Regions from separate parts of the Homo sapiens genome. Here region 2 is linked to region 1. Evidence: fine-mapped expression QTL. A gene starts in region 1. The other region holds a variant in brackets. All regions are shown on one strand. Distances are between the middles of the regions. Region 1 holds the start of PGK1 (phosphoglycerate kinase 1). Region 2 overlaps P2RY10 (P2Y receptor family member 10).

What was found. PIP is the estimated chance that this variant, and not a neighbour inherited with it, causes the effect. A credible set is the group of variants that fine-mapping cannot tell apart.
Region 2: its variant is the best candidate, but not a certain one, in a credible set for the expression of PGK1 in whole blood (TOPMed, PIP 0.68).

The regions. Positions count from the first base shown.
Region 1 is chrX:78,102,255-78,106,254 of GRCh38, reverse strand. It overlaps PGK1 (phosphoglycerate kinase 1), which reads right to left and starts at 2,007. Exons shown (of 11, transcript NM_000291.4): 1 at 1,850-2,007. The coding sequence starts at 1,914. RefSeq lists a silencer at 2,061-2,120.
Region 2 is chrX:78,945,927-78,949,926 of GRCh38, reverse strand. P2RY10 (P2Y receptor family member 10) reads right to left here. Exons shown (of 4, transcript NM_014499.4): 2 at 2,064-2,112. Among named protein-coding and RNA genes, the nearest start is that of P2RY10, 2.5 kb to the right of the region's middle. The variant G/T (reference allele first, on the strand shown) is at 2,023.

The DNA.
Region 1 (4,000 bases):
ACTTGGTAGTTCAGTAACCCTGAACAGGTCATTTTCCATCAGCAAAACAGGACTAGCCAATCATTTCAAGGCTTTGGGTTAGCGTGTGCTAAATGAAACTTTATTAGGTCCAGAGGGAGAAAAGTTAAGCAGCTCCTCCAATCCCGCCCCCAGCTAGCTTCCTCAAGCCAGTTTCCCTAGAGAGAGAGGAAATAAAGCCCAAGACTGCAATTACAGGAAGGTTATCAGCATAATGTCCCACTCCTTGTCTGTTAGTTGGTCCATGCATCTGGAAGAATCAGCGTCGAACACAGGGGAGATGCAAGGAACTAATTAAAACCTAAAAGCTAGTTGCATGCCAATGTCCACCTGTCCTGTTTTTTACAGGGTCTATCCCCTTTTTTTAGGATTGTATGAGGGCCAGAAAGGGCACTCCTCTAGTACTAACATGGCTGTGACTCCTACTTTGTCCAGATTACAAAGGCCTATGTCATTTGGGGAAATGTGGAAACCAGGTATTTTTCATGGACATAAATTATTGGGTTCTTCTATCTCCACAGCAGGGCAGCGGTTACCTGCAAAAATATTGACCAAAGTGAAATTAGAGAGAAGAGGAGAGCTACATGTCCTTTTAGGGTACCCATACAGTTCCCTAACTCAAACGTGTCCTCATATGTTTAAAGTTAGAGTAAAGGGAGATCTCCTACTGACTTACGTGTCTGTTAATATCCAACACAAGCCCTCATTTGAACCAGCCCAAATTGGAAAAGGGGCTAGATTACACCAGCCAAATAAATACCTACCCATCAATCAACCACTTCCCAAAAAGGTCAAGGTTGCAAAATGCTATCAACAGAAACCTTTATGACCCCTCAAAAACACCACTCTTGGATCCTGTTAAGGTATATGAACAGTCAAGTCCATCAGTTACATACCGACTCATCCTCCTGCACCTTGCTCCTGGTATGCACAAATATATCACACGTGACAAAAAGGATAAATGTAAAAGCTGCCCACTCTACCAACAATTCTGGCAGATAAGAGAGAAACCGTGTTGGCAAGTGACTAGAGATCCACATGCGCAGAGTAAGAGACCCAAAGTGCACGAGGAAACTTCCCCCAATTTTAAAATTCTACTTTTCTAGCCACACGTGGGGATGAGATTGGAGGCCAGCAAGTATGAGCAGCCACACCCTGCTCTACCATTACCTAGTATGTCACAATCCTGATGCAAATCCTGTGCCCAAGAGTCCAACGATACCGCGCTGCAGGGCAGCAGACGCCTGTTACGTAAGCTCTGCAGGGCCTCCTCCAGTTCGCCCCGCCCTACCCTCCCACCCCAATTCTTTAGTGGCGGGGGGCGGGGGGGTCTACTCCTGAAGTTAAATCAACATCCTCTTGGAAAAATATCCTTTTGTGCAGGAACCTGTGAGATGTGGGCCGTTTCTCATTTGGCTGCGACGGTCTAGGAGCGTGGGGGAAGGGAAAGTAAAATGACCTTTCAAGGTCCCTTCCTTGAAGCCTAGAGATTTGCAGGATAAGCATTAAGTCCCATCTCGCCGACTGGGAGCTGGAGGCAACGGAACTGCATTTCACCAATAGGAAAAAGGACAAAATGGGTCCCAGCGGCAATCTCAGCCCTTCCTCAGTGGGATCCATCCCCGAAGGGTGACTTCGGGTGCTTTCTGGGCTGGGGAAAATGCGGCTAGAAACCACCAAACCCGTGAGCAGCCTCGCCCTCCAAGCCTAGGACCCCTGGGGCCCAGCCAAAAGCTAAAAGAACTTAGAGCAGACGAGAGAACAAGTCGGCTCCGGCCAAAGAGGTTTGCGACAGAGCACAGAGAGCACGCGGGCAAACGTGCAGAATTACCTCATAACGACCCGCTTCCCTTTAACGTCCAGCTTGTCCAGCGTCAGCTTGTTAGAAAGCGACATTTTGGAAATACAGCTGGGGAGAGAGGTCGGTGATTCGGTCAACGAGGGAGCCGACTGCCGACGTGCGCTCCGGAGGCTTGCAGAATGCGGAACACCGCGCGGGCAGGAACAGGGCCCACACTACCGCCCCACACCCCGCCTCCCGCACCGCCCCTTCCCGGCCGCTGCTCTCGGCGCGCCCTGCTGAGCAGCCGCTATTGGCCACAGCCCATCGCGGTCGGCGCGCTGCCATTGCTCCCTGGCGCTGTCCGTCTGCGAGGGTACTAGTGAGACGTGCGGCTTCCGTTTGTCACGTCCGGCACGCCGCGAACCGCAAGGAACCTTCCCGACTTAGGGGCGGAGCAGGAAGCGTCGCCGGGGGGCCCACAAGGGTAGCGGCGAAGATCCGGGTGACGCTGCGAACGGACGTGAAGAATGTGCGAGACCCAGGGTCGGCGCCGCTGCGTTTCCCGGAACCACGCCCAGAGCAGCCGCGTCCCTGCGCAAACCCAGGGCTGCCTTGGAAAAGGCGCAACCCCAACCCCGTGGAATTCGAGGCTGCCCTACCAGGATCAATGCAAATGCCACCTCCTTTTGGAAAATCCTGGTTTCCTAGCTCCCTTCATGGAATTCTGCTTCTTAAGGCTTACTTAGTAATAGAGACCTCTCAGAAGTTGGAAGAGGCCCAGGTCCACTCTGGCCCCCACCTTTTTTAAAATAAAAAATGCAATGTAATTTTTCTGGTTATGGCATGATTGATGCTAATGGCAAACACGTGGCATTTTTCATATATTAACCAACGCTCACAAAACGCAGTAGTGACTACTGTTATCCTCATTAGGCAAATGAAATAACTGATGCACAGAGAAGTTTAGTGGGCCAGGCGCGGTGGCTCACGCCTTTAATCCCGGCACTTTGGGAGGCCAAGGCCGGCAGATTGCTTGAGCCCAGTGGTTCGAGACCAGCCTGAGCAACATAGCAAAACCCCATCTCTACTAAAAATACAAAAAATTAGCTAGACGTGGTGGCGGGCACCTGTAGTCCTGTTACCCGTGGAGGGTGTCCAAGTTCTTAGCGTCTTGAACTAAGAACTGGACGAAATGCACAAAGCAAAGAAAGAATGAAGCAATAAAAGCAGAGATGTATTGAAAACGAAAGTGTAACCGCCCAATGGGTTCACCTTGTCCGCTGCCTAGACAGAGCTGATTTATGAAGACGGGAATTGCAATGGCGAAAGAATAATTCACGCTGAGCGCTGTGCGGGAGACCAGAGTTTCATTATCACTCAAATCAGTCTCCCTGAGCATTCTGGAATCAGAGTTTTTAAGGATAATTTGGCAGGTATGGGTTCGGAAAGTGGGGAGTGCTAGTTGGTCGGGATGAAGATTAAATCACGGGGTCGAAGTGAGTTCTTGCGAGTTCTTCCTGGGTGGGATCGTGGAGCTAGTTGAGCCAGATTATCAGTCTGGGTGGTGTCCTCTGCTGCATGAGAATGCAGGGTCTGCAAAATATCTCAAGCACTGATCTTAGGATTTGCAATGGTGATGTTATTCCCAGAAGCAATTTGGGGAGGTTCAGATTCTTGCAGCCAGAGGCTGCATGGCCCCTAAACTGTAATTTATAATCTTGTAGCTAATTTGTTACACCTACAAAGAAAGGCAGACTGGTCCCAGCAAGAAGGGGAAAGGGCTGTTATCAATTTTGTCTCAGAGTTTACACTATAAATTCTTTCCCAAGGCTAGTTTGGCCTATACCCAGGAATGAACAAAGACATTTTAGAAGTTAGAAGGAAGATAGGGTAGGTTAGGTCTGATCTCTTTCACTGTCATAATTTCCTCAGTTATGATTTTTGCAAAGGCGGTTTCAAAAGTATACTCCACAAGGTGAGAGCAGGCCTGAGCAAGCAGCTCAAGAGCTTGGTTACAGAATTTTCTGGGGTCTAAATACCCGGTAGAGGTTTCCCATTAGCCACTTGGTGTATACCCCATGCAAATGAAGTAGTGGTCCATGGTCAGTCTGATTGGTTGCAGAAAGTGACCAATCAGAGGCTGAAGTGAAGTTACAAAGTTACACTCCTATACAAATGAAAACTTGGCCTGCCACCAGC
Region 2 (4,000 bases), 840 kb before region 1:
TAAATTTCACATGAATTATCCAAGCCAATCTGATCTCCATGACCCCGGTGTTCTTCATTCAGCCGCTTACAACCAGAACCAAAGAGTAGCAGCTAGAATTGGAAACTCTGCTGTTTCCTGAATAAATCTACATCAACTCCAAATAAGCCTGGTTGACATGAGATACACACAAATTTGGACACATTCTGCAAGTACAGACATTTTCTTCTGTTAGAGGAAGTGAAAATTATTTTTATCCTTAAAATGAATTAAAGCAATTAGACCATTAACAAAACAACAACTTAAAGTTTGAATTTGAACTTTCATGCAGGAATATGTATTGGACTTTCAATCATTTAGGAAGGCGGCCTAATTAGATATCATTTTTGCAGCTGTGGCAGCATTTTATGGGTGGAAATAATCATGTTCTTTGGAAGACCTGGTATCATATCATGTCTCAATTGTCGGTTCTCTGGCCTGAAACAATTCACTTCATATCACCAGGCTTCAGTTTCCTCTTTTGTAAAATTAGAATGGTTCCTGCCACATAATTTGTTTTGAGCATTAAAGAAAAATGTGTCTGAAAATAATAATCCGAGTAAACAGACAACCCACAGAATGAGAGAAAATATTTGCAGACTATGCATCTGACAAAGGACTAGAAACTAGAATCTACAAGGAACTCAAACAAGTCAGCAATAGAAAGAGAAATAATCCCATTATAGAGTGGGCAAAGGACATAAATAGAGATTCCTCAAAAGAAGATATACAAATGGCCAACAAACACGAAAAAATGCTCCACATCACTAATCGTCAGAGAAATGCAAATTAAAACCAGAATAAAATAGCACGTTACTGCAAGAATGGCTATTATTAAAAAGTGAAAAAAAAATAGATGCTGGTAGATATGTGGATAAAAGAGAAAGCTTCTACACTGCTGGTAGAAATGTAAATTAGTACAACTTCTATAGAAAACAGTATGGAGATTCCTTAAAGAGCTACAAGTAAATCTACCATTTGATACAGCAATCCTACTAATCACAATTGCAAAGATGTGGAATGAATCTATGTGCCAATTGACTAACGAGTGGATAAAGTAAATGTGGTGTATATACACTATGTAATACTCCTCAGCCATAAAAAGGATCGCAATAATGTATTTTTGCAGTAACTTGGATGGAGGTGGAGTCCACTATTCTAAGTAAAGTAACACAGGAGTGAAAAATAAAAAAAATAGATGTTCTCACTTATAAGTGACAGATAAGCTATGATTATGCAAAGGTATACAGAGTGATATAATGGAATCTAGAGACTCAGAAGAGGGTGGGTGAGACAGGCTAGGCATAAAAATATTACACATTAGGTACAACGTGCACTACTGAGGTGGTGGGTGCACTAAAAATCTCAGAATTTACTGCTATATAATTTACCCATGCAACAGAAAAAAACACTTGTAGTTCAAAAAATATTGAAATAGAAATGAAAAAAAGAAAATGTGTGTAAAAGTACCTATTTTCATGTCTGATACCCAATAAGTATTAAATAAATGTGAGTTCATTTCCTCTTTATTTGTACACAGAGTCATCTCCAAGGGCCTTTGGTTGGATCCTGTACATTTCTGGATTTAGAAAATCCCCTAAGAAGTGTAGTTGTAGCAGAGGACTAGAATATCTAGAGCAGTAATTTTTAAAGTTAAAGGGTAGAAAATAAGTGTTACTTGATAAAACATATTCCTTATTATAACAAATATATTTGGAAAACAAAATAAAAAATGTCATTATTGTTTCTACAATACAAACTGTGAAAGTACAGATCTACAAAATCCTCTTAACTGTTGGGCACTTAGTACTTGGAAAATGTCAATGTGATGGAGCAGATTTTTCTACAAGTCCAGGGTCTGGTCCCTAGGAAGGCAAGTTCACAGTAACCTTGTAGTGAAATGTTTACGTTTCTCAAAGGGAACCTTGGGTTTAAAAGATTGAGAAATGCCAACTGAGTGTCATTGTCACTGTGGAAATTAGATTTCAGAAAGTTTTATCTTTT[G/T]TCTTGCATTTTCTCATTTTTAAAAAAGGGAAATTACTTACAAAGCATTTGCCTGTGGTCTAAAAGTTGAAGCTGTCATGATAACATTACCTGAAAGAAATATAATGGCAATTGGGAAAGGATACTCAGTTCTCTTGGAGATCTGAACTACATTTCCAGAATGTCCTCTCTAGATAGATTTCCCTATTATGGCCCCATTATTCACCACTCCATAACATTTAACTATTCTTAGGTATCTAACAGTCTAACTCAAATCATTGGATTGCTAGGAAGGAAATTAGGAACCATCTATTCCAAGCCCTCTCCCATTATAATAGATGAGATTATTGAGATGCACAGAAATGAAATAACTCACCGAAGGCCACACCAGTCATTGGCAGAACTTGAACTATAACACAGACTTCTGACTCCTTATGTATTGATCTATCTATTTGATCACTCTACCTGTGATGTATATGAACTGATACTAGGAGAAAACTTCTCCACAAAATATACTGATCTGAAGAATAAATAAACCTTTTTGCCAAAAGCTTTTAAAATAAATCATAGACCACCGGGGAACCATTGCCCTGATTGTTAGTGCTTTTAGAAAGTCTCATTTTACTATAAACAGCTTTGTTCTCTTTGCTTGAGCCATGACAGAGAGCTATAGTATAGATAGGCAGCCTATCTTTTTTTTATTTTTTTTTTGAGCCAGAGTCTTGGTCTGTCTCCCAGGCTGGAGTGCAATGGCACAGTCTCAGCTCACTGCAACCTCCATCTCTCGGTTTCGAGCGATTCTCCAGCCTCAGCTTGCCCAGTAGCTGGGATTACAGGCGCCTGCCACTGCAACCAGCTAATTTCTGTATTTTTTAGTAGAAACGGGGTTTCGCCATGTTGACCAGGCTGGTCTCGAACTCCTGACCTCAGGTGATCCACCTGTCTCGGCCTCCCAAAATGCTGGAATTACAGCGTGAGCCACCAAGCCCAGCAGGCTGGCCTGTCTTTTAAAACCCCAACTCACTTATTTCAAACCAAAACAACCCATAAATGTGTTTATTCATTTGATGTCTTCAGATTTGAGTAGTCTGTACAACTTGAACTCTACAACTTTCCCAGTTGAGCCCCAAAATAAACTGCATTTGGCCAAAGAATCTGTGTTCAACAGGAACCATTGCAAAAACAATTGCCCCAAATGTGTGATCTGATTCTGACTGTAGTTTACACCATTTTCCACCTCAGTATATCTGCATATCACCTACTTTCATAAGTGGTTAATTTTACTGTGCTGCAATTGCTAAGAGATAGATTCTCCAATTAATATACATCATAATGACTCCACACATCCATTTGAACAACTGAAATAAAAATATTCTCACTTGCAGGATTCTTGGAACTGAGCCTACTCCCCTGGAAAGCACAGCCAAATCTGGTATCATTCTATCCAGCCTTATCCTGGTTCCAAATGATTTGGCACAGTCTCCCTTCAGGGACTCCTTAGCTGAAAGTCTCCTTTTGATTTAGTCATCTTAGCTCAGAAGGAGAGAGGTGCTAGTATTCAGAGTAATAGCAATAATAACTGAAAAAATGAGTGCCTCACTCATGGGCTTTGCTATCCAGTAAGGCTGAACTTCGGTCAAAATTAGCTTTCAAAGGATCAAGGAACCACTCTGACCAGACTCTGAAGTCATCTGGGATACTTTCTCCTTTCCTATCCTAAAAAATGGCAGGGTCACAAATAAATTTACAGTATTCTCTGGGAGATGCAAACTGCTGTAGGAAAAGGCAAACATGAGTTTAAAGACACAGGTCCTAGATCCACCTATACCACTAACAAGCTGAGTGAACCTAAGTGTCTTCACTTCACTGGCTCTCAGTTTTCCTGACTGTATTGTGAGGGATTTGGATCTCTATGGGCCCTTTCAGCCCCCAGAATCTATTACCCTGCTTTCTACTATTTGTCTCAGTATCTCTGAAAGCTAAATTTTCCAAAGCAAGG